2 separate regions of the Homo sapiens genome follow, and region 1 is linked to region 2. The links come from fine-mapping of genetic effects on gene expression. Tissue or cell type: whole blood. Region 2 holds a variant in brackets; the other region holds the start of a gene. All regions are shown on one strand. Distances are between the middles of the regions.

The links.
Region 1: VPS54 starts here. The variant in region 2 is fine-mapped to the expression of VPS54 in whole blood (TOPMed, PIP 0.97).

The regions. Positions count from the first base shown.
Region 1 is chr2:64,012,489-64,023,824 of GRCh38, forward strand. VPS54 (VPS54 subunit of GARP complex) reads right to left here and starts at 6,940. Exons shown (of 23, transcript NM_016516.3): 1 at 6,450-6,940. RefSeq lists an enhancer at 6,124-6,193 and a silencer at 6,354-7,063.
Region 2 is chr2:64,044,211-64,056,327 of GRCh38, forward strand. No RefSeq gene overlaps it. Among named protein-coding and RNA genes, the nearest start is that of VPS54, 31 kb to the left of the region's middle. The variant G/T (reference allele first, on the strand shown) is at 6,165.

The DNA.
Region 1 (11,336 bases), 32 kb before region 2:
AGTTTTTTCCGTTCATATCCAAATGTACCTAATTCTCATCTATACACAACTCTTAACTTTCTGAGATAGAGTATAGGTGTCTACTCTTTTCCAGAGTTAATCCCCCAACAGCTGTTTTTGATCTTACCTCTTCCTGCTTCATCTGGGACCTTTTTCTATTAGTTATTCCCCAATTCTATCTTTAATCTCTTCATCGGCCCATCAAAAAAAAAAAAAAGAAAAGAAAATTTCAAGCACCAAATGAAGGCCCTTTCCCTCCTCCCTGCCTCCTCCAGCTACTACTTCTCACCTCCCCTTCATTGGCAAACCTCCGTTCTCTTTTTGGTCTACTTCCTTAGCTGTCTTCCATCTTCACCATTTACTTGGCTCCAGAAAAGGTTAGGAATGACCTGATTTCTACATTCCGTGGCCTATATTCAGAATTTATCTAACCTGACCTCAATGCCCTGAAAAAGTCAAAGAAGGTAATAAAAGTAGAAGGAATGCAAAAAGAAAAGTTACCATTTGTAATCCTCCAACATAATGACTGATTCAAGCAAGGATCATTAATGGGTACCAAAATCACTGGTTAAAGGGTTGTCAGGGAATAGGATATTTACATGGCTATTAAGTATCCTCTATAAATTATTTATTAAACAGTAGAGAGATCTGTCAGTTCACCTTTACCAAGTGATCAAACTTGCATTACCGATATAGTGATAGCCTGAAATCATGTGCCTCCTGATGTAATACAGCAGAAATACACATCATCTGTGTGATGGTCTCACCAGAAATGTCTGACTAGAATCTAATCATGAGGAACAGACCAATTCAGAATGTGGAACATGCTCCAGGACATATGGTCTCTACTTCTCAATGGATAAACCTAAAGAAGAGAGGAAGGCGGTAGGACTAGTCCAGATTGGGGGAGACTTAAAGAGACATACCAGCCAAATGCAATGCATTAACCTTGAATGAATCCTGCATTTGAGGGGGGAAAAAGCTATAAAGATTTTTGGGACAAATGGGAAGATTTAAGTATAGAGTATACATCAAATAATGTTATTAAGTAAATGCTGATATATATATATGATATATATATCAGCATTTATATATAAATATATATCAATATATATCATATGATATATATCAGCATTTATATATAAATATATATCAATATATAGATATATATTGATATATATATCTATATATTGATATATATCACATATATAGAGATATATATATCATATAGAGAGATATATATATATCATATATAATACCAATCAATACCACATTACTTATTCTGAATATTGTCTGCAACTATTCCACCCTCAAATTACCCCATAAAAATCTTACTGAATAGCTGGGCCTTTGACCACCTCTACCCTTATTTTTATATGATTCTGAAAGAAAGGTGACCAGTTAACAAAATTTTAAGAAACCAGCCAGGCGCGGTGGCTCACACCTGTAATCCCAACACTTTGGAAGGCCGAGGCAGGTAGATCACAAGGTCAGGAGTTCGAGACCAGTCTGACCAACATGGCGAAACCCTGTCTCCACTTAAAATACAAAAATTTGCTGGGCGTAGTGACACGCCAGAAAGATGAAAAATAATTTTAAAAGAAATCTAGAAGGAAATGAGATTTTACAAATGGTGAGCAGGCTTACAACCCCTATTTCTTCAGTTAAATTCTCACATCTGAAGAATAATTACCTTCAGATAATAGAAAAACCCTTCAAATACACAGGAAGGCAGGCATAGTAAATGAAGACAAAAGGATTATTCCCCAAAAGGGAATTAATCCAAATAACGACAGCATACTCTTAAAAACACTAAAACTTTTTGAATAAGTCACTTCCAAAAATTTTAACTCTGAAGTAAAATATATATATTTTCAAGTCTTCTCAAATAGCATATTTGAAAACAAGGTAATCTTTTCTTAATAAGTTAATTTCACCATTATAATAATCAGTTATTTTACTGTGCTATAACGGTGATACTCTCAGGTGCTACAGAAGGAAGTCAGTTTGCCCCTATATTAAGGAGTTTCAGATTATAGTGATATACTAGTTATTTTACTAGTTTGTTATCAATATTTGTATTTAGTGCTTCTCTCCTCCCTAGAGAGGCTGTCAGCCATCACTATTCTCCGCCTTACTATCTACATTCCTGCCTTTGACAACCTCTATATTCCTTCCTAATTTGATTCTTCTGAAGCGAATAACTCTTCTACAGTATATTATAGTTGACACTGCATCTTAATACATATTACCTCATTTAATAATTCTTACAATAGCCTTGTAATACATGGATTATCACTACCCCTATTTTATAGATGAGAAAACTGAGGCTCAGAAAGAATAACTTGAGTAACTTATCCATAAGGTATGGATGATAAATAGCAAAAGTGATCTCAACTGTCAATTACCTTCTTTCATCAACAAATTAAGCTTGTTAAAAACATTAAATAGTCTAAAGTGGAGCTCATAGGGGAAAAAAAGATTCATTATAAGCTTGGAATTTTTCTGGACATTCACAACATACATACATACATACATAACATAAGTGTTATACATACATATATAACATAAGTGTTATCCATAAAGTTAAACACTTAGCTTACTTCTCCTTTCTTGGTAGTTGAAGCTGCCAGGAAAAAAAAAAATCACTTCTGGATAAAAAAGATATGACTATATTCTATTTACAATTTCAAAAACATATGCAAAAATAACAATTCAAAACAATAGTAGTCCAAATTTGCAGTAAATTAAGTCTGTTTTTAGAAAAAAAGGGGTTCTTTTTTCAGATTTGAAGACAACCTAAACATACGAAACAGTATCTGCGTCATGTCGTAAACAGATTTCCTTTTATTTTTCCCTCAATTCCTCCTCTTGCAAAGAAATAGAGTTAGTTGCTAGAGGATCTAAGGTGTTAATCTAATTCACCAAACATCGCCCACTGAGACTATTCTCCCACCTGGTAGGAATCAAAAACACTAGGTCCTTACCAGAAATCGTGCAGCCCCTAGGTTTACAATGGTACCATTGACATTTTGAACCGGATAATTTCTTGCAGAAGTATGTCCTGTGCATTGTAGGGTATTTAGCAACATCCTTGGCCAATACCATTTCCTTCAGCTATGACAACCAAAAATGTCTCTAGACACTGCCAAATTTCCCTTGGAGTCAAAACCGTCCTCGCAGAGCCATTGTTTTAGATGTTAGGGCACTGGATATTTGAAAAAGGAAACCTCCAACTGGCCCTGTTAATTATATTTTTTTAAAATTTGGATTTAAAAAAATAAGACATTAATAGTATAAGAAGATATCTAAATAATACATTTGCTACCCTTCCTTAGGTTAAAGCATTTTTAGAGGATTTTGTAACATGGGTTTCATCAATGTAGCTACATATAGTCACCCACTTTTCCCCCAAAGTTGGGGGAATGTCCAGTTCTTTCTCAGCTCTGCTAGCAAAATGTCAAATACATACATATATACAAGAATCTAAACAATTCTAACTTCCAAAGTCCCATTTCTTGCTTTACATGGCCACGCTGTGGTTCTTGAGCCACACATCCTAGAGATTCAAGCTTCTAATCTCCATGTTTCCTCATCTGGTTGCTGCCAACTAATAGCGAGGTAAGCAGGAAGTAAGCTGATGACCTTTAAGATCTTTTCCCTGATATTCTAATATTCAATGACAAAAATGCCCACTTTTACTTATTGATTCCGAGCTGACCAAACTACCTCTTGAGGTTACTGAAGCCATTCATGCCTTCTCCAACTTTATGCTGAATACAACCAAAAAGTGTATCAGTTATTTACAACATCACTTTTAATATTGGTGATCAGTTGCTTATTCCCTAGCTCAAATAAAAAATTTTAACATGTACACTGATTTTAAAGGAAAAGCTTTTCAAGAAGCTATGAGCCAAGAAGCATTATATGAAAGGCCCACATTAGGCCAATATTGAGACAGAAAGTAGACTAGTGGTTGCCTAAAGCTGGGGGTGGGGTGAAGAGAATGGGGAGTAACTGTTAATGGATAAAGGTTTTTTGAGGGAATGATGAAAATGTTCTAAAATTAGATTATGGTGATGGTTGCACAATTATTTAATCTAAAAACCACTGAATTGTATATTTTTTTTTTTTTTTTGAGATGGAGTCTCGTTCTGTCACCCAGCCTGTAGTGCAGTGGTGCTATCTTGGCTCACTGCAACCTCCACCTCCCAGGTTCAAGCGATTCGCCAGCCTCAGCCTCCCCAGTAGCTGGGATGACAGGCGCTCACCCCCATGCCCGGCTAATTTATATATTTTTAGTACAGACGGGGTTTCACCATGTTGGCTAGGCTGGTCTCGAACTCTGGACCTCAGGTGATCTACCTGACTAGGCTTCCCAAAGTGGTGGGATTACAGGTGTGAGCCACTGAACCCGGCCAAGTGGTACACCTTAAATGGGTGTATTTTATGGTATGTTAATTTTATCTCAATAAAGCAGTTTTTAAAAAGCAAAGAGCAGGAAAGAGGAATTGTAATTAACTTTTGTTGATTAAAAAAAAAAAAAAAAAAAAAAAGAGTGTGATGGGCCGGGGCCGGGGCGGTGGCTCACACCTCTAATCCCAGCACTCTGGGAGGCCGAGGCCGGTGGATCACAAGGTCAGGAGTTCAAGACCAGCCTGGCTAATATGGTGAAACCCCCGTCTCTACTAAAAATACAAAAATCAGCCAGGCGTGGGGGCGCCTGTAGTCCCAGCTACTCAGGAGACTGAGGCAGAAGAATCACTTGAAGCCGGTAGGCGGAGGTTGCGGTGAGCCAAGATAGCGCCACTGCACTCCAGCCTGGGCAACAGAGCAAGACCCCGTCTCAAAAAAAAAAAAAGAAAAGAAACAAAAAAAAAGAGTGTGATGAAGAAATTCTGCAAAATTTGCCGTTTCATGGGCTATATAGGAATTGACTTTAATTCTGACACAAAAAATTATCTTATCCAGAAATCAATTTTAACTTTCCAGAAAATATAAGCATATGCAAAAGTAATCACCTTTTCCTAGTAAACTTTTAGTATTAAATTCTAATTTCAAAAACACTTCAGAAAGCCAAATGCTGTAGTAACAATACTTCTACAAGAACAAAATATACGAATATCAACAACAAAACAGTCTTTACGATTTGGTTGTGATGCATTCTTTATTTTAAAAACCCATTAAAACATTTTTCATTTATTTAAAAAAGTGATCCTCAGACTGCCTCTTAGATTGGTAGTGTAATAATTCTTAAGTTATCAGAACATAATTTAAAAATAGCCAAATTACAATAAAATCGCAAACATCTACTGTCGTCCCAAACAACTATCAATTACAGCTACTGGTAACCTATCATAAGCAATGATGAGCACTACGAACCATCAACATCCATTTCTAGGAAATCCGATTCTGACTACACTACAAATACAGTCAAACAAATCCCATCATTCCCTCTGTTCCATCATTTAACTGCTTAGAAATCATTTAGGCTCTGAAGGTGCTTTTTCCAATTAGAACTCCCCTTCGGATTTATAAAAGTGAATGTACATCAAAATCTGCAGTTTAGGTTATCGCAGTAATATTTCTCGGTATACTACAAGTAATTTATCACGGTATTACTTAAAGGCGTTTAGTATTAAGACCGCCCTTGATTTGACAAATCAGAAATACAGCCAATTAAAAACAAAAACAGTCCAAACAATTTAATTCTTCGAAAGAGCCTCAATAAAGACCAAAAAATAAAGCTGGTTAGAAGAAAAAAATTTTTTTTTGAAACGCCTGTCAGTCAAAATGCTAAAAATACCATCTTGAACTCAACACATGAACAGACCAAACGGCTAATTATAATTGGCAAGCCAAAGTTCCCAAGTCAACGACGGGAGAGCAGAAACGGCAGAGAGGGCCTGCCCTTTCTGTCTATGCAGAGATGGAAGGAGGCAGAACTGAAGAAAATTATTGCACAAATTATTTCAAGCTACATTGCCAAAATGCAAAATACTGAGTAACTCTTTGGGTTAGCCTTCCCCGGAGAGAAAAACAAACAAATGTTTTAACGATTCCAGTAGAATCCAATAGGACTAAGGGCCTGGCTGGAAAAAGAAAAGGAAAGTTTGGGGGCAGCGTCTAAGGGGGTGATGGAAGTTCCAGAGCTGGGATCCCGGAAAGATAAGAGAGGGGCAAGAGCGGCGTTTGCGGTCGCTGACAGGAGGCAGGGAACACAGCTGCCAGCCCCGATCCCGGAGGGAGAGTGAAAAGGAAAAAAAAAAAAAAAAAAGGAAGTGGCGGAGAGGAGCATGGAAGCTTCAGTGCCGGTCAGCTGTGACCGAAACTCGGTCCGTTTGGGGCTGGGGAGGAGAGCCGAGGGGGTGGGGTCTCGGTCCCTCTCTCCGCTGTAGGTCGGGGTGAGAGTGGGCTGAGACGCGCGGGGGGCCGCGGGGCACACCTACCTGCGGGTCCCGGGGCAGCCGCCCTGAGCGAGGCCTAGTGCATCGCCGCCGCCTCCAGCCCTCCACGTCGCACCGAGGCTGCTGCTCCACGGCCGCCGCCGCCCGGCGCCCGGCCGGGCCCGAGCCCGGGTTCCCGCCCCCGCCCCGCGCCCGCTGGCCAGTCGGCCCGGGGAGCACAGGGCCGCCCTCTCGAGCCCAGCTTCACTCAGGGGTGAGAGGTGGCAGCGGCGGCTCCCTCACGTCTCTCCCGGGTGTCCTGTCAGCCAGCAGTTTCCCCCGGGTCCGCAGCGCCGCCTCCGCCGCTGCTGCCACCGCCTCTCCCACATCCCCGGCCTCCAGGGGAGCCGCCGCCGCCGCGCCACGACCACTGCCTCTAGCGCTTCTGCTCCCGACTCCACTGCTTTCCCTCACCCCGCCGGCCCAGCCGGCTCGGCCCGGTCGGGTGCGGGGAGACAGCGCCGGAGGCCGCCGCAGCCCCCAGCCCACAATCCACCGCGCGGCTCCGCCGGGGCGGGAGGGCCGCGGCCCGGGCCGGGGGGAGCGCCCGCCGCCTGGGGAAAGCGGCCTTGGCGCAGGCCGGCGTGCCCGTCGCAGGCGCAGCCAGAGTTCTCTCGGGGCGGGGAATACACCGCGTGGCTCCCCTGCGCCTCCTCTAATAGTCCTACACGCAGACAAATCCACGCTGAATTCCACTTTCCCCACCACCCTTCCCCCCAACTCCCAGTTTTCAGGAACACCCAGAAAACCTCCTGCCGCCTTCCCCGGGACTGGGACGCGACCCCTCCAGCGTAGCCCTCGCCACCCCCAAGACCAACCGACTCGAAACATCCCTAAATCACCCGGGACCTATTAAAGCAAATACTTCCACGAGATTCCTCCTCTCCCCCACCCCCTCGAAGTAAATGCTTTTCAGCTGTTCCCTAGTAAATGCCCTTCCAAAGGTTAAAGGTCACCCCTCCGCAACAACCCAGTTCTCTCTATTGAGGCCTTTTCCCCATCCAGTCCTCCCCTCCAAGTCTTCCCCAAGTTCCAGGCCTTCCTCCCAGACACTGTAATCAGTTATTCCTGTTACTTGACTGAGATACTTGGAGTGTGTATGATAATTAATACCTTCTAATTCTGACTTCAGCCTGGTTTCACAGGACTTGCAACTTTAAACCAATAAAACACAGTCCACAAGAAAGGGAAGGTCTTAGTATATAAATATAAAGACACACACACACACACACACACACATATATTTTAGGAAGAAAAAGATCCTCAATCCTTTGAGTGCTTGTGACTTAATTTTGGGAAGATTTTATTCAATGTTGAAATTCTTGCCTAAAAATAAATTTCAAGCATTTATAAGACATAGTATGTTTTAACAAATCAAAAGTGAAAATGTAACTCTTATAGTTGGGGGGTTGAAAAAAATGTTGATCCAAGTTTCACTTCTAAGAAGTCACTTTGAAAACTGCAAACATAACTTTTATGAAATAATATTTTCCCCACCAAAGAGCTAAAGTTGGGGAAAGAGGACAAAAAGTAAGGAAGCATCAAAAATAGTTGAGAGAAAACTCTTACATTATATTTTTCTAAGTTCAATCCTCTAAAATTATGTAAGAAACAAAGTGAGAAAATCATTCCCCAATATGAAATAAATTTAACTGTAAAAGAGTGAAGTCCTCTTAAATCCCTGATCACTTATAAAACCAGATGAGTTTACATAGAAGCAGAGTAGAATGGTGGTTACCAAAGACTGGGGGGTAAAGGGTGATGAGGAAAGGGGAAATGTGAGTCAAAGGGTATAAAGTTTCAGGTAGGAGGAATAAATTTTAGTGATCTATTGCACAGCACGATGACCACAGTTAATAACAATGTATTTAATATTCCAGAATAGCTAAAAGAGTACTTTCTTTGTTTTGTTTTGTTGAGACTGTGTCTGGCTCTGTTGCCCAGGCCAGAGTGCAGTGGCATGATCTTGGCTCACTGCAACCTCTGCCTCCCAGGTTGAAGCAATTCTCCTGCCTCAGCCTCCCGAGCCGCTGGGACTACAGGCGCGCACCACCACGCCCAGCTAATTTTTGTATTTTTAGTAGAGACGGGGTTTCACCATATTTGCCAGGCTGGTCTCCAAACTCTTGACCTCGTGATCCACCTGCCTCAGCCTCCCAAAGTGCTGGGATTACAGGCATGAGCCACCACGCCCAGCCAAGAGTACATTTTAAATGTTCTCACCATAAAAAAAATAAGCTGGGTACAGTGGCCCACACTTGTAGTCTCAGCTGAAGTGGAAGGATGCCTTGAAACTAGCAGTTTGAGTCCAGCCTGGACAACATAGCCAGACACCATCTCTTAAAAAAAAAAAAAAAAGTAGGTGAGGTGAAAGATATGTTAATTAGCTTGGTTTAGTTATTCCACAGTGTGTACATATATCAAAACATCACATTGGATCCTATAAATATATATAATTATTATTTGTCAGTTTAAAAATTTTTTATTAAAAAAGATGTGTTTATACTGTGAAAATATTAACAAGAGGATTAACCAAGTTTTATCTAAGGCCAGAAAGGAAAATAATTTTTCTTTATGTCTAGAATCAGTTCATAGATTATGCTAGGAATTGGATTTAGCAAATTCTTATATTTTGACCCCCCTCAGGAAGTCAACAACAGTTCAAAAACTTCCTTAAGCCTGGCTGGTTTGGCCTTTAAAAAAATATTTGTGTTTATACCCCACCTTGTTCCAGAAAAGATTCCAACTTGGCACTTGGACTAAATGATAGCCGTCAGTTGTCTCCCAGACACTAGAACAAGACAGTCTGGTTTGCTTCCTCATTATCCATCTGTTGATAACATACCATAGGAAGAAAATACACATTGAGTGTCGTGCTTAGTTCTTTCAGAGATCCAGCTCAATGTTTACTTTTACTTTTACTTTTCCACAGAACAATTCATAATCTTGAATCTAAACAGGAAAGTAAATGCTGATGATCAGGTTTGCAAAAATTTTTTTAAAGTGTGTAAACTGGGCAAGCAATTTCATTTAAACCTAGATAAATTTCAAATTAATTACTATGTTCACTTGCTATCACTTGAATCATTTCAGTCAGTATGAGAGCTAAAAGCCAAATCACAAATAAATAGGTATAGATATATTATTAGTGTACATTTCCAGAAAGCACAGATGATAGAAAATTAAGAAATTAATACAAAATTAAGAAATGGATAGGAGTTAAGATTCCATCATTGCCTTCAAAAAAAGGAATCAGGAAGAAAATATTTAGCTACCATGTCACTAACACTGTATTTGGCATATTTATTATATCTGTTACCGACCAATCACATGAAAAGTGATAGTCCATCAAGGTTATATGTTCTAATTAGAGGGAGAATGGCAAATTTTCTAATGCCATAACACCTATAAAAGGGCTATGTTTATGTTTACTGTGTATTCTGTGCATATTTGTATAGGTGGCAGTAGTAAGGTTAACATAGCTACTCAATCACTGAACACTGCCTTTCTTTTTTTTTTTTTTGAGATGGAGTCTTGCTCTGTCACCCAGGCTAGAGTGCAGTGGCACGATCTCGACTCACTGCAAGCTCCACCTCCCAGGTTCATACCATTCTCCTGCCTCAGCCTCCCAATATAGCTGGGACTACAGGCGCCCGCCTCCACGCCTGGCTAATTTTTTGTATTTTTAGTAGAGACGGGGTTTCACCGTGTTAGCCAGGATGGTCGTGATCTCCTGACCTCACGATCTGCCCGCCTCGGCCTCCCCAAGTGCTGGGATTACAGGCGTGAGCCACCATGTCCGGCCTGAACATTGCCTTTCTAATGATTTATTTGATAGAAACTATACATTCCCGTGCTATATAAATACAGAGGGGAAAGGGGGCACTGATAGAATGAACAATGAGAAAAATAATTTTCCAATTTAGTAAGATAGAAGCACTAGCTTCTTTTTTCTGTGATAGCAAACCTTGAATCTATGCAATGGAAACCCATCCACATTCTTAACCTACTCTACAGCTAAATATGTGTAATTATATTGTGTGTTTAGTATAAATAAGCTATCTTTGATAAGCAAGATTTACATGCACTAATGAACTGAAGGTGTCAAGCTGGTAATTGTTTCATTAGGGTTTGGATCCAATAATGTCCTGAATTATTTTATGCATCATATTTGAGCTATTCTTAAATGTTATATATATAAATATATAATTATATGTGTTTTTATAATTTAAAAAATTTTACAATTTTTGATACAGCTAATATATAGTATATAAAAATATAAATGATAATTTATAACAATATGACTCTAACCTGAAACTGTGTTTTGATATTTCTTCATAGGTAATATAGGACTATCTTAATGTAGGAAAACTTTCCAGTTTACTTTGAGTATGGTGTAAGATATTAAAGCTAAATGTAGATATAAGCACCACTAGAAAATTTATAATATTTTATGTGGTGATGATAATGTACTCAATACTTGTTGGGAGTAATATACAAGTCTTCAACATATCATCTTTTTGTCTTCTACACCAGCCGCTTGGTTACTTTGGAAGCAATTATTTAACTCTGTTAAATTTCTCTGTTAACTTTTTTCTTGACCTCGATATTTCAGATTTCCATTTTGATTATTATAATAATAGCAGCTGTAATCTACTAAGAATTTACTGCACCCCAAGCATAGGGAAAAACCAAGATACTATGGTATATTAGTTTTCTATTGGTATGTACAAATTATCGCCAATTTAGCAATTTAAAGCAACACACGTTTATTATGTCATGGTTTCTTGAGTCAGGAGTCTCAGCACAACTTAACTTTGCTTAAGGTTTCACAAGGCTGCAATCAAAGCATCCATCAGCCTGTATTGTCATCTGAAAGCTTGACTGAGG
Region 2 (12,117 bases):
TGAAAATAGTGCTGCAGCCAGGTGCAGTGGCTCACGCCTGTAATCCCAACACTTTGGGAGGCCAAGGCGGGCGGATCATGAGGTCAGTAGTTCGCGACCAGCCTGACCAACATGGTGAAACCCCGTCTCTACTAATTAGCAGGGTGTGGTGGTGCACACCTGTAATCCCAGCTACTCAGGAGGCTAAGACAGAAGAATGGCTTGAACCTGGGAGGCAGAGATCAAGCCATTGCACTCCAGCCTGGACATCTCAAAAAAAAAAAAAAAAAAGCATAAAAGAAAGAAAATAATGCTGCTATGATCATTCTTAAACAAATATTTTGCTGCACATATGTCTGCATTTCTGTTGTAGGAGTTGCACCACCAGATCATGGGTATTCCTATATTCAGTGTTAGTAGATTCTTTCAGTTTTCTAAAATGGTTATACGAAGTTACATTCCCACCAACAGTGTATGTGAGTTAACAGTTGTTAACAATTGTACCACATCATTATTAACACTTGGCATTGTCAGTTGAGAAATAGACTCCAAGGAGATTATCATGTAGAAAACATATTAGGGGTTGCTCTTGGGATTAACACCTGTGGAAGGGATGGAGCAGAGGCAAAATTGGACAGAGGCAGAAGTTGGGCTGTGGTGCAGTTTCAACTAATGTTTCAGCTGACCCCATAGAGAGCCCCTTTTTTTGTTTGTTTTTTGAGACAGGGTCTCACTCTGTCATCCAGGCTACAGTGTAGTGGTGCAATCACAGCTCACTGCAGCCTCGACTTCCCAAGAGCCCATGTTTTTAAGACCTTTCATACCCTGCACTCTGCCACGATGGTACGCTGTTTATTTTTATTTATTATTATTATTGAAAGGGAGTCTTGCTCTGTCACCCAGGCTGAAGTGCAGTGGCATGATCTCAGCTCACTGCAACCTCTGTCACCTGGATTCAATCAATTCTCCTGCCTCAGCCTCCCAAGTAGTTGAGATTACAAGTGCCTGCCACCATGCCTGGCTAATTTTTGTATTCCGGTAGAGATGGGGTTTCACCATGTTGGTCAGGCTGGTCCCAAAATCCTGACCTCAAATGATCTGCCCGCCTTGGCCTCCCAAAGTGCTGGGATTACAGACGTGAGCGACCATGCCCGGCCATGTACACTGTTTGTATATAACATATTAGCACTAGATGCTGATGATGAAAGCTAGCTGAAGTCAACCAGCCGTGTCATTTTGACTTCTGGTTGTTTAGTGCCTCTTTGGTGGTAGATGGTGCTTGCTGGTAGGCATTACCATGTAATCTTCATGCCCACTTTGTGCCTATTCACATATACCCATCCTTCCCCAGACTTTCTTGTTCCTGATCTGCCAAGCTTTCTCTTCTAGGTCCTGAGGAGCTTGGTTTTAGAAATCAGATAATCCATTATCTGCTAGGATGGTTTAAATAAAAGAAGCTTGTATTAAAACTCTCCATAATATATTTGACTTTTTTTTTTTTGAGACGGAGTTTCATTCTTGTTGCCCAAGCTGGAGTGCAATGGTGCGATCTCAGTTCACTGCAACCTCTAACTCCTAGGTTCAAGCGATTCTCCTGCCTCAGCATCCCAAAGTGCTGGGATTACAGGCGTGAGCCACCGCACCCGGCCTATATTTGACTTTTTTAAAAGCCGAACTATACTATAAAGAATGTTTTCAAAAGAACCAGCCAAATTAAAATTATAGAAGGTTTTTTGTTACCTTTAGATTCATGTTTTAATATTCATGGTGAACTATCTTTTCTACTAAAGCCCTTAGACAACTGGCAGTAGCAATTTTCACTGTCTAGAAGGTGGCTTCTCCAACTCAATGTGCATAAGAAGCACCTGGAGCTCTTGTTGAAATGCAGATTAAGATTCAGTTGCTCTGGGCTGAAGCCCAAGACTGTGCATTTCTATTAGGCTGGTGCAAAAGTAATTGCGGTTTTGATGGCAAAAACCACAATAACTTTTGCACCAACCTAATAACAAGCTTCCAGGTGGTGCTGGCGCAGCTGGTCTGCAAACCACACTTTGAATGGCCAAGTTCTGTGGCCTCTTGTCCTTCCCTGCTAGCTGGAAATTCACCTTATAACAAATTCAAACCCACTTTGGTCCTTTGGGCTAAAACCGATCCAAGATTTAAGATGTTCAAATTGGGATGGTTAACTGATCCCATTACATGTTCTGCCCTGCAAGTTAGAATGCGGACTTAAATGAAAAATTAAACTATAGTCAAGATTTTAAAAACAGTTGAGGCTGGGCAAGGTGGCTCATGCCTATAATCCCAGCACTTTGGGAGGCCAAGGCAGGTGGATCACCTGAGGTCAGGAGTTCGAGAGCATCCTGGCCAACATGGCGAAACCCATCTCTACTAAAAATACAAAAATTAGCTGGGCATGGTGGCAGGCACCTGTAATCCCAGCTACTTGGGAGGCTGAGGCAGGAGAATCACTTGAATCTGGGAGGTGGATGTTGCAGTGAGCCAAGATCGCACCATTGCACTCTAGCCTGGGAGACAAGAGCGAAACTGTGTCTCAAAAAAAAAAAAAAAAAAAAAAAAATTGAAAATGTGACCCACACTCTCCATATTCATTCATACTCTCTATGTCCTTTGATTTAACCAGTATTCTTGTCATACCTTAATCTCTTCTTAATGAATAAGATTTAAAAAGATGTATCGATGGAAATAATGTGTTAAACAACTTATCTGTTGACATAGCAAATAAGTAGAATTATTTTAGAAAGCTATTTAGTAATCTGTATCAAGATGTTGTTTTTTTACACCAGAATTGTTTCAATGTTTGTTTTACCCCATATTCTCATTCTTGATAATTTATTATACAAAATTATAATATTTGCTGAGCATTGCCACATGCTCTTCACTGTAATGGATTGTAGATTAACTTGCAGTAAGGAGAAAAGCACTTTCCACAAACATATTTATTTCAGTATGAACTAAAATGAAAAACATAGGAAACTAAACTTCAACAACTAGGTAAATTTTTATATAACAACTCAAAGGAATAATTCAAGACATTAAAAATGTGTAAATTATAAAATTGTGTGTTAAATGAATGCAAATAAAAAACTATAGAAGCAAAAAAAAAAAAAAATGAAAGTTAAAGAGGCAGAATTTTAAATAAAATGTTGCCTTAAAAGTTACTTGAGGCTGGGCACCGTGGCTCATGCCTGTAATCCCAACACTTTGGGAGGCCGAGGCGGGCGGATCACAAGGTCAGGAGTTCGAGACCAGCCTGGGCAACATGGTGAAACCCTGTCTCTATTAAAAATACAAAAATTAGCCAGGTGTGGTGGCAGGCGGCTGTAATCCCAGCTACTCGGGAGGTTGAGGCAGGAGAATCGCTTGAAACTGGAAGGCGGAGGTTGCAGTGAGCTGAGATCGCGCCATTGCACTCCACTCTGGGTGACAAGAGTGAGATTCCACCTCAAAAAAAAAAAAGTTATTTGAAAAACTACACACACACACACACACACACAAATGTGTAGAAGGATCAGATAATACAAGGCTTCATTTCATTTCTTTGGCTGTTGAGGCAACTTTTAAAAAGCCTTCTCTTACACCAACAAAAATATTCTTGTCCTTTCCTGCTTTCATAGCCTACATCTTCCTGTTTGTGAATACAGGTAGGAGATGTTGGAGTGGCAATCTGGGGCTCTCCCGTGGTTTACAGTGAAGAAAATAACTCAGTTTCATCAAGAGGCTGGCAAATGTTTTGCAGATATTTTACAATTGTATCAACCATAACAATGCCACAGATTCTACAAGGCTAAAAACCAGGCAGCAAGGCATTTGTCTTTCGGCTATTTTTGCTTAGAAGTTATTGGTGTTTGGCCTTATTTTCTTATATTGTAAACTTTTTGGATATTGGATATTTAGTTGTAAATGTCAGCTTGTTTATATTTGAGTTTACTCAACATTGGAATCCCTAAGGAATTCTTGAAGTTTGATAAATTCCCAGATACAACGGCACAATTCAGGGAGAGGAGTTTAGAGTCGTGAGTACCCTTTGCAGGAAGATAATGGTAAGCAAAACCTACTCTTAAAAGTTGTGTTGGGGGGTAGACCACAGTAGCTGATGGATGGTGAATGGTCTCAGGGTGGGAGTGGAGAATGGAGAAGGAAGAGGAGGCTCTGGGGCATAAAATGATGGGCCCTATACTAGCACCTCATTCTTGCTTTTACAGGGGAGGGAAAGACTTTTCCTCTACCCTCCTAGGTTTAAAATTTGAGTCTGTGAAACAAACTGACAATACGCAGATTAACCGGAGAAAAGGTATACAAATTTATTGCATGGATGGGGCATCACAAGAGAAAAAAAAATGAATACCCAAAAAAGTGGTGAGATTTGGGAGCTTATACTGTCTTCGTAGGGGAAAGAAGAAGAGGGATATGGACAACTTAGGAGAGGGTAAATAATTTGGGGGAAAGAATGAGCCCTTAGGGAGATGGAATCGTTTGTAGCAAACTCTTACATTCTATTATAGATGTAATAGAAGTGGTGTCCACTTCTAATCTTCTGTCCTGTTGTAATAGTCAATCTTCCTGGTTGATTAACCTACCAGAGAGGGGAATTAATGACAACTGAGTTCATTTTGGAGGATCTGTCTTCAGGCAGGTAAGGGAGAGTTCAGAGAAAGCCTCTCCCTGCATTTGCTGTCTTTCAAGTGTCTTCAGCTTCAAATAATTAGTATACCAAAGTAGCATATTTTGGGGTGGCATGTCCCAAATGCCTTTGCTTTCTTTTTTCTGAGTTTGGGAAATGTTCTTCCTTTTCTTGGGCACACTGTCCCCACCAAAGACAGAACAAACAAACAATTCAAGCTTTTATGCAATGAGATAGACACTGTGCTAGGCCTGCTCCCATTTTTGGCCTCCTGCAAAAATCCCAAGGAGCAACCTGGGAATATTTTTTTTTTTTTTTTTTTTAAGATGGAGTTTCGCTCTTGTTGCCCAGGCTGGAGTGCAATGGTGCGATCTCAGCTCACTGCAACCTCCACCTCCCAGGTTCAAGCAATTCTGCCTCAGCCTCCCAAGTAGCTGGGCCTACAGGCATGCGCCACCACACCTGGCTAATTTTTGTATTTTTAGTAGAGACGGGGTTTCTCCATGTTGGCCAGGGTGGTCTCAAACTCCTGACCTCAGGTGATCCGCCTGCCTCGGCTTCCCAAAGTGCTGGGATTACAGGCATGGGCCACTGCGCCCGGCTGCAATTTGGGATTTTTGTAGGAAATCAGGAACAAGGCTCAGGAATGCTGTCCTGAAAATGATCAAATCCTTTCACCTGCCTGTCTTGCTAGGGGCGTGGAGAATACATAAAGGTACACAGAACTAGAAGGATGGAGGAAATAATGAGGCTGTCATGGGAGATTTCCTAAAGGTTACTATGAATTAGCTAATTTGTGATACCTTGTTGCTAATTGCTGAAGAGAGGCTGCTCTTTTATTCAGAGTTATGGCTATGCCAGTTCCTTCTGGGCACTATTCATATGCATGAGTTTGCCTCTTGTTCTACATCAGTGCCTCCTGGTTTGCCCTCCTCTTTACACTCTTGACATGCAGAGGTGAAGGCAAGTGTGGTTGTGCTTTCGTTAATTTTGTATGGGAGGAAGTGGTTGTTCAGTGACCTTGGAAAAGCCCAGTGCTGATGTTTTACAGCAGGTGGCAGCCTTTCCCTGGGAGAGAAGACAGAGCTAGTCTGATCTAATGCAAAATTGTTTAGGGTTTTATTGCTTTTCCTTGATAGACGTGTCAAGTGATTACCTGACCCTGAAGTTGAAATTGGCTTTATCACAGAGGGAAGAGAAGCAGAGATCCTAAGCCCTGGAAAAGGGAGTGTAAACTCACTTCTGGGGCTCAATCCCACAGCTGCTGCCTCTGAAGAAACTGGTGGCTGCCCTCAGGGAGTCTGGTCAAGTTCAGACACCACATGGCATCTCTGAGCAAGGGCCCACAGAGAGACACGGATTGGAGCAGGGAGACACAGATTGAAGCAGATCAACAATTATCCTGCTGTATTTTGTGAAGGAGGGCATTTGATAGCAGAAGTACCCCCCTTTCCATTCCAGATGTGTAAAGCAGCCTTTTTTTTTTTTTTTTTTTTTGAGATGGAGTCTTGCTCTGTCACCCAGGCTGGAATGCCATGGC[G/T]CAATCTTGGCTCACTGCAAGCTCCACCTCCCGGGTTCACGCCATCCTCCTGCCTCAGCCTCCCAATGTAGCTGGGACTACAGGCGCCCACCACCATGCCCGGCTAATTTTTTTGTATTTTTAGTAGAGATGGGGTTTCACCGTGTTAGCCAGGATGGTCTTGATCTCCTGACCTCGTGATCCGCCCGCCTCAGGCTCCCAAAGTGCTGGGACTACAGGCTTGAACCACTGCGCCTGGCCGCAGCCTTTTAAACTAATCTGCCAAATGGTTTTCTTAAGGTTATTCAGTTACTTGCATTCAAATTTGCAAAGTGCTTAATAAAAGGAAAGGCAGACTTGGTGGAGAAGCTTGATGCTGGAAATACATCCAATTTGTTTCTGAATTCTTTTTTGTCTTTTTTAATTTTTTGTTAATTTTAATTTTTTTGAGACAAGGTCACACTCTGTCACCCAGGCTGCAGTGCAGTGGCATGATCTTGGCTCATTGCAACCTTCGCCTTCCAGGTTCAAGTGATTCTCGTGCCTCAGCCTCCCAAGTAACTGGGACTACAGGCGCTCACCACCATGCCCATAGGAGTTTTCTGTATTTTTATTAGAGACGGGGTTTCACCATGTTGGTCAGGCTGGTCTTGAACTCCTGACCTCAAGAGATCCACTTGCCTCGGCCTCCCAAAGTGTTGGGATTACAGGTATAAGCCACTGTGCCAGGTCTGTTTCTGATTTCTTAATGGTAGGATTGTATGTATAATTTATCAATAAAGTGCTATGTAGAAAACATTATTCAAAACTTAGCGTAAATGAGTAGAGATTGACCGAAGTCCCTATAGATGAATCTACTTTATGCCTAAAGGAAATATGGGTGATTAGACAGGGATAGGAGCAGACAGAAATCAAGGGACTAGGTGGGACTATTGAAATTAATTAAAATTGAAATGAAAAATTCAGTTCCTAAGTTGCACTAGCCACATTTCAAGAGCTCAACAGCCACATGTGACTAGCGTCTACCATGTTGGACAGCACGGATAATTGACCATTTTTATCATCACAGAAACTGCTACCAGATAGCAGTGGACTAGAAGAAAAAAACAGGGAGTGTGGCCAAGTGAAAAGGTGAGTAGTTAAGAACAAACCCTCCCTGTAATGCTAATTATTGAAATACTAATTCCTAAGTGTGGCAGGAGTTTCAAATAGAGTATCTCATATAATCCTCATACTGATCCACAACCACAGTAACGCTGCTGACATTTGTTGAAACCTTTTTACTACTGCAGGCCAGGCACTAAAAACTCTGTTGAACTGTTTGGGCTCGGAAAACAATACCCTAAAACAAAGACCTCAGAAAGCAACCTCAGAAACAGAAGTTTTTCTTTGACCTTCTCCTGCCCTCCTGTCTCTTAATCCTTTCTCCACTGAGGCCAGCCGCAGAAACTAGAATCCCTCTTCCCGAAGGTGGGTCATAGAAACCAGAACCCCTTTACCCAAAGCTAGTCATAAAACCTACAATTTTACTCTAACTTTCCCTCCACCTTTCTGTATAAAAACTGGCCATGAAGAAATTATCTGACCTCCCTTATTTGACTGTAGGACATAAGACCCTGGTTCCAGAGAGGGTCCTGTCCCACACCCAGAAGGAAGGAATGCGTGCTCAGAGACGCCAAGAAGAATCTAGACGGACAGGCCTTGCTGGGTTTCCCCACTCCGGCCATTAGATCTTACCCTTTTTGTCCAGTCATGTTCCTATACAGCTGGCCATACTTTGTTGAACCTAAGCATAAAAATGACAATTTCCCCTGCGTGTTTTGGTCTTCATTCTGAAGGCTCTTGTGTATTCCCGTTAAATAAATTTGAATGTCTTTTCTCCAATTAGTCTACCTTTTTTGAGTTGGTTTTTCAGCAAACCTTCTGAGGGCCACGAGGAAAGCTCTCCCTTGGCCCCTACGTAACTTGCTGGTCTTTGCAAGAACTCAGTCAAGTTGGTACTATTATTGTTCCTATTTAACAAATGAGGAAACTGTAGCAGAGAGGGACTTTAGTAACTTATCCAAGGTTACCTGGCTTGTAAGGAATAACTGGGACTCAAACCCATGTCTTTCTGGGCTGTAACAATTACAGAGAAAGCAAGCAAGGAAAATACCTAGCACTCTCTTTATGTGAGTCAAATTTGCTTTTAAGCCACTTTTCCCTAAGGCAGGCCCACCTCTTAGATTTTCTGTCACATAATTGTCTTTCTGGCTGAAGAAGAAGGCATTATGCCAATTCTGAGAGAGTAACAATGACCCCCTGTTAGTCAGGATGTGAGCCGCTTCCTTCCCTCTAAAGCAGAGTCTGCTGCTGCACAAGGGAAGTTGGTTTCTCAGAAGCTCACCTTTGTAGACACAAGTCTGTTTGGGTGACATTTTTTAAGTAAAATATTCTTAAGATGAAAATGAAGACTAGAAGTGTACATGGGAGATGCTCTTTTCTCTAGGTGGTGAGATTAAGAAAAACTGTTTTTCTATTCATCCGTATTCTGTAACTTTTCTACATGAATATGTCTAAAAAATTTTTTTTAAAAAATCAAAGCCAGAGACTGCATGGGAAAAAATTGTGCCTTGGCTTTTGTTAATAGGCTTTTGATAAGATAGTAACTACTTTAGTACTAATAGCCAATAAAAATACATTTGGTTGAGTGCTAAATACTTTAAACAATAGCAGGGGAAGTGTGGAATTTAATTATAAGGTTAAAAAGGACACTAAACAATGTCCAGATACTCAGTGCTTCTCTGCAGATGGAGACACAGTTGTTTTGTGTTCATGGCCCTGTCTTTTAAATTTTTTTTATTTTTATTTTTTTGAGATGGAGTCTCGCTCTGTTGCCCAGGCTGGCATGTAATGGCTCCATCTCAGCTCACTGCAACCTCCGCCTCCCAGGTTCAAGCGATTCTCCTGCCTCAGCCTCCTGAGTAGCTGGGATTACAGGCATGTGCCACCACACCCAGCTAATTTTGTATTTTTAGTAGAGATGGGGTTTCTCCATGTTGGTCAGGCTGGTCTTGAACTCCCGACCTCACGTGATCTGCCCGCCTTGGCCTGCCAAAGTGCTGGGATTATTGGCTTAAGGCACCGTGCCCAGCCACGGTCCTGTCTTATGTCGCACAGTTCAAAGTGAGGCACAGGCTGGTAGATAAAAAACAGGGAAAGTCATGAATCACAATATTACTTTTATCATCAATTAGCAACAAATGGTCTCTGAAAACTAATAAACTTGGCATGGGGAAAGAGAGAGGTGATCTTTTCAAGCTACAGTGCATGTTTGTTCTCCCAGGTGAGACTCATTAAGTAGAAGCCATGTTACTGAGAATTTGCAAATATAAGCAGTATGGAGGCAGAAAAAAAAAAAAGAGGCTGAAAACTGGTCAGTGCTTGCTAAGGTTCTTTTCTCCTACAAAATTCTAAGATTTTGTGATCGTTTTAGTTTAGTAGTATGTCTTTATATACTTTTAAAGTTATGTACTCTTAAGTTTCTATACATTTTAAAGCTAGTTTTCCCTAAATTGATGTGCTGCTACAGGGTATCTTAGACTTTTAGTTAAATCTGTAGGTGAGTCCACTATAAAATGCTAGCCAAATGAAATGGTAGCCAAAAACATTTTCAAATACCTAAGTATCCAGAGTGAGTACAGTTTATAGGCTCACTCACTTTAATGGCGAAATAAAGGAATTTTAAGTACAAAAGATAACTCAGAGGAAGAATCAAGTGATAATACAGCACCAAGGAATCAAGAAGTCATCCCCCACCTTCCTCACTTCCCCATCTCTCAGGGTTCCATTTAAAACCAATTCCTGCTTACCTTGGAGTGTAATTTAAGTGGAGTGGCTATAGTATTAAAGCTAAGGAGAAGGAAAAACATGTGAATTACCAGCAGTCATCTGTCTAGGCAGACAGTTGGAGACAAGAAAGAACAAACTGAAAAAGGGCAACAGACTCATGCCACAGGTGGTGCATGCAGGTGCAAGGACTTGGGTCAGACAAGCCCTTCTCAGAAACACAGAGAAATATTCAGCCTTGTTCACTTTCATTCCCTGCAAGAGGACAGACCTGGCAGCCTTAAAAAGGAAGAGTTCTGGAATCAAACCGGGCTCTTTTGTGTTTCCTGTTTGGCTGAAAGCAATTTGAAGTGAACAAAATCCTAAGATCAACTCACTTTAAAAATTGTATATATATATATATATGTACATATATACATTTTATATTGCCTGATTATGCCAAATAATCTGACTTTACCAACTACATTGTCTTTGCAGATGACGCAGAGCTACCTGTTTGTTTTCTCTTTTCTGTGCTTCATTGTTAGATAACTTTCCATTTTGTTTGATGGAAATAACCACGCTAGGGTCACTGATCTGACACTGCAATCTCTTTATTCTTGGTTTTACACTGCACTTCTAGTTTCATAAATGAGGCCGTATTTAGGCTTTGGTTTATGGAATTGAGTTTACAAGGGTATCCTTCACTCTGTTTTATTTCTACCCTCTGGCATCTCATGGATGTGTGCTTTGCTCAAGTGTCCCCAGAGACCCGGAAGAACCAGCTAGATGGATGATCCTTGAGTTGCTAGTTGCACAGATGTTTACATGGATTATCTCAAAAATCAGATGTTGCATCTCATTTATGGGATGAAAAAGCTTCAAGAAAGGAAGATAGGATTTAGATCTTTCCTTTTTTCTTCTTTTGGACTTAAAGTGCAAAGATTTGAGTTAATCGCCTTCCTCAGATCACTGTATGTGATCATCCATGAGAGGACCTTTTTGTTTTATTTTACTTCATTGTTTTCCTCCTTGATTGCCAGCACTGGCAGTCACTCTGATGTATTAATAAGTGTTTGGATATGAGTGTACCCCCAGGTTGTTTTTTCTATAATGCTGCTTTATGAATATATGTGTTAAATCTGTAATGTTCAATGGCTCTCATTCTGTTTCTTGCTTTTTGATGCAATGCTGTTTTTAAGCTCTATTCATGTTCCTTTATGCACAGCTAGCGCATTTCTTCTAACTGCTGCATAAGATTCCATATTATGTGTCATGATCATGTCATGATCATCTGATCCTCTTAACATATCTGTGGCCCCTAGTGGTGGACTCCCAGACTGCCCCGAACTCTCTTGTACCACAAACAATCCTGTGATAGACATGTTTGTGTGTATTTCTTCATGAACCTGTGTGGAGAGGGATTCCTGGATTGTAGGTTGTCAGTGAGCATGCACGTGTGTGCATGTGCGCATGCGCACAAATACACACACACACACACACACACACACACACACACACACACACACACAGAGATACTGCCACAGTGCTCTCTAGGATACCTGTATCTGTGTACACTCCCGGCAGCAGCACATGAGGGTTTTTGTTTCCCACACCTTTGCCAAGATTGCCAAGATTTCCCAACTTTCTAATTTTTATAAATCTATTGGGTGTAATGTAAGGCGGTATGTCAAATAGTTTTAATTTCCATTCTTCTGTTTACTAGTGACACTGAACTTCTCTTCAATCCTTCTTAGGCATTTGGTTTTCCACTTCTGAGAGTTGGCTATTCATACTTTTTGTCAATGTCTCTCTTGGGTACTTTATCTGATTTATAGGAGTTCCTTATAAAGTCGTCCCCCCTTATCTGAGGTTTTGCTTTCCGAGTTTTGTTACCTACCATCTTTAGTCCAGAAATATTAAGTGGAAAATTACAGAAATAAACAATTCATAAGCTTTAAATTGCATGCCATTTTGACTAGTGAGATAAAATCTTGTGCCATCTTGCTCCATCCTGCCCAAGGCCCTTATCATTCCTTTGTCTAGCATGTAACCACATGCTGCCCACCCCTTAGTCACTTAGTAGCCCTGCCGGTTCTCAGAATAATTTGTGGTATCTCAATGCTTGTGTTCAAGTCACTCTTATTTTATTTAATAATGGCCACAA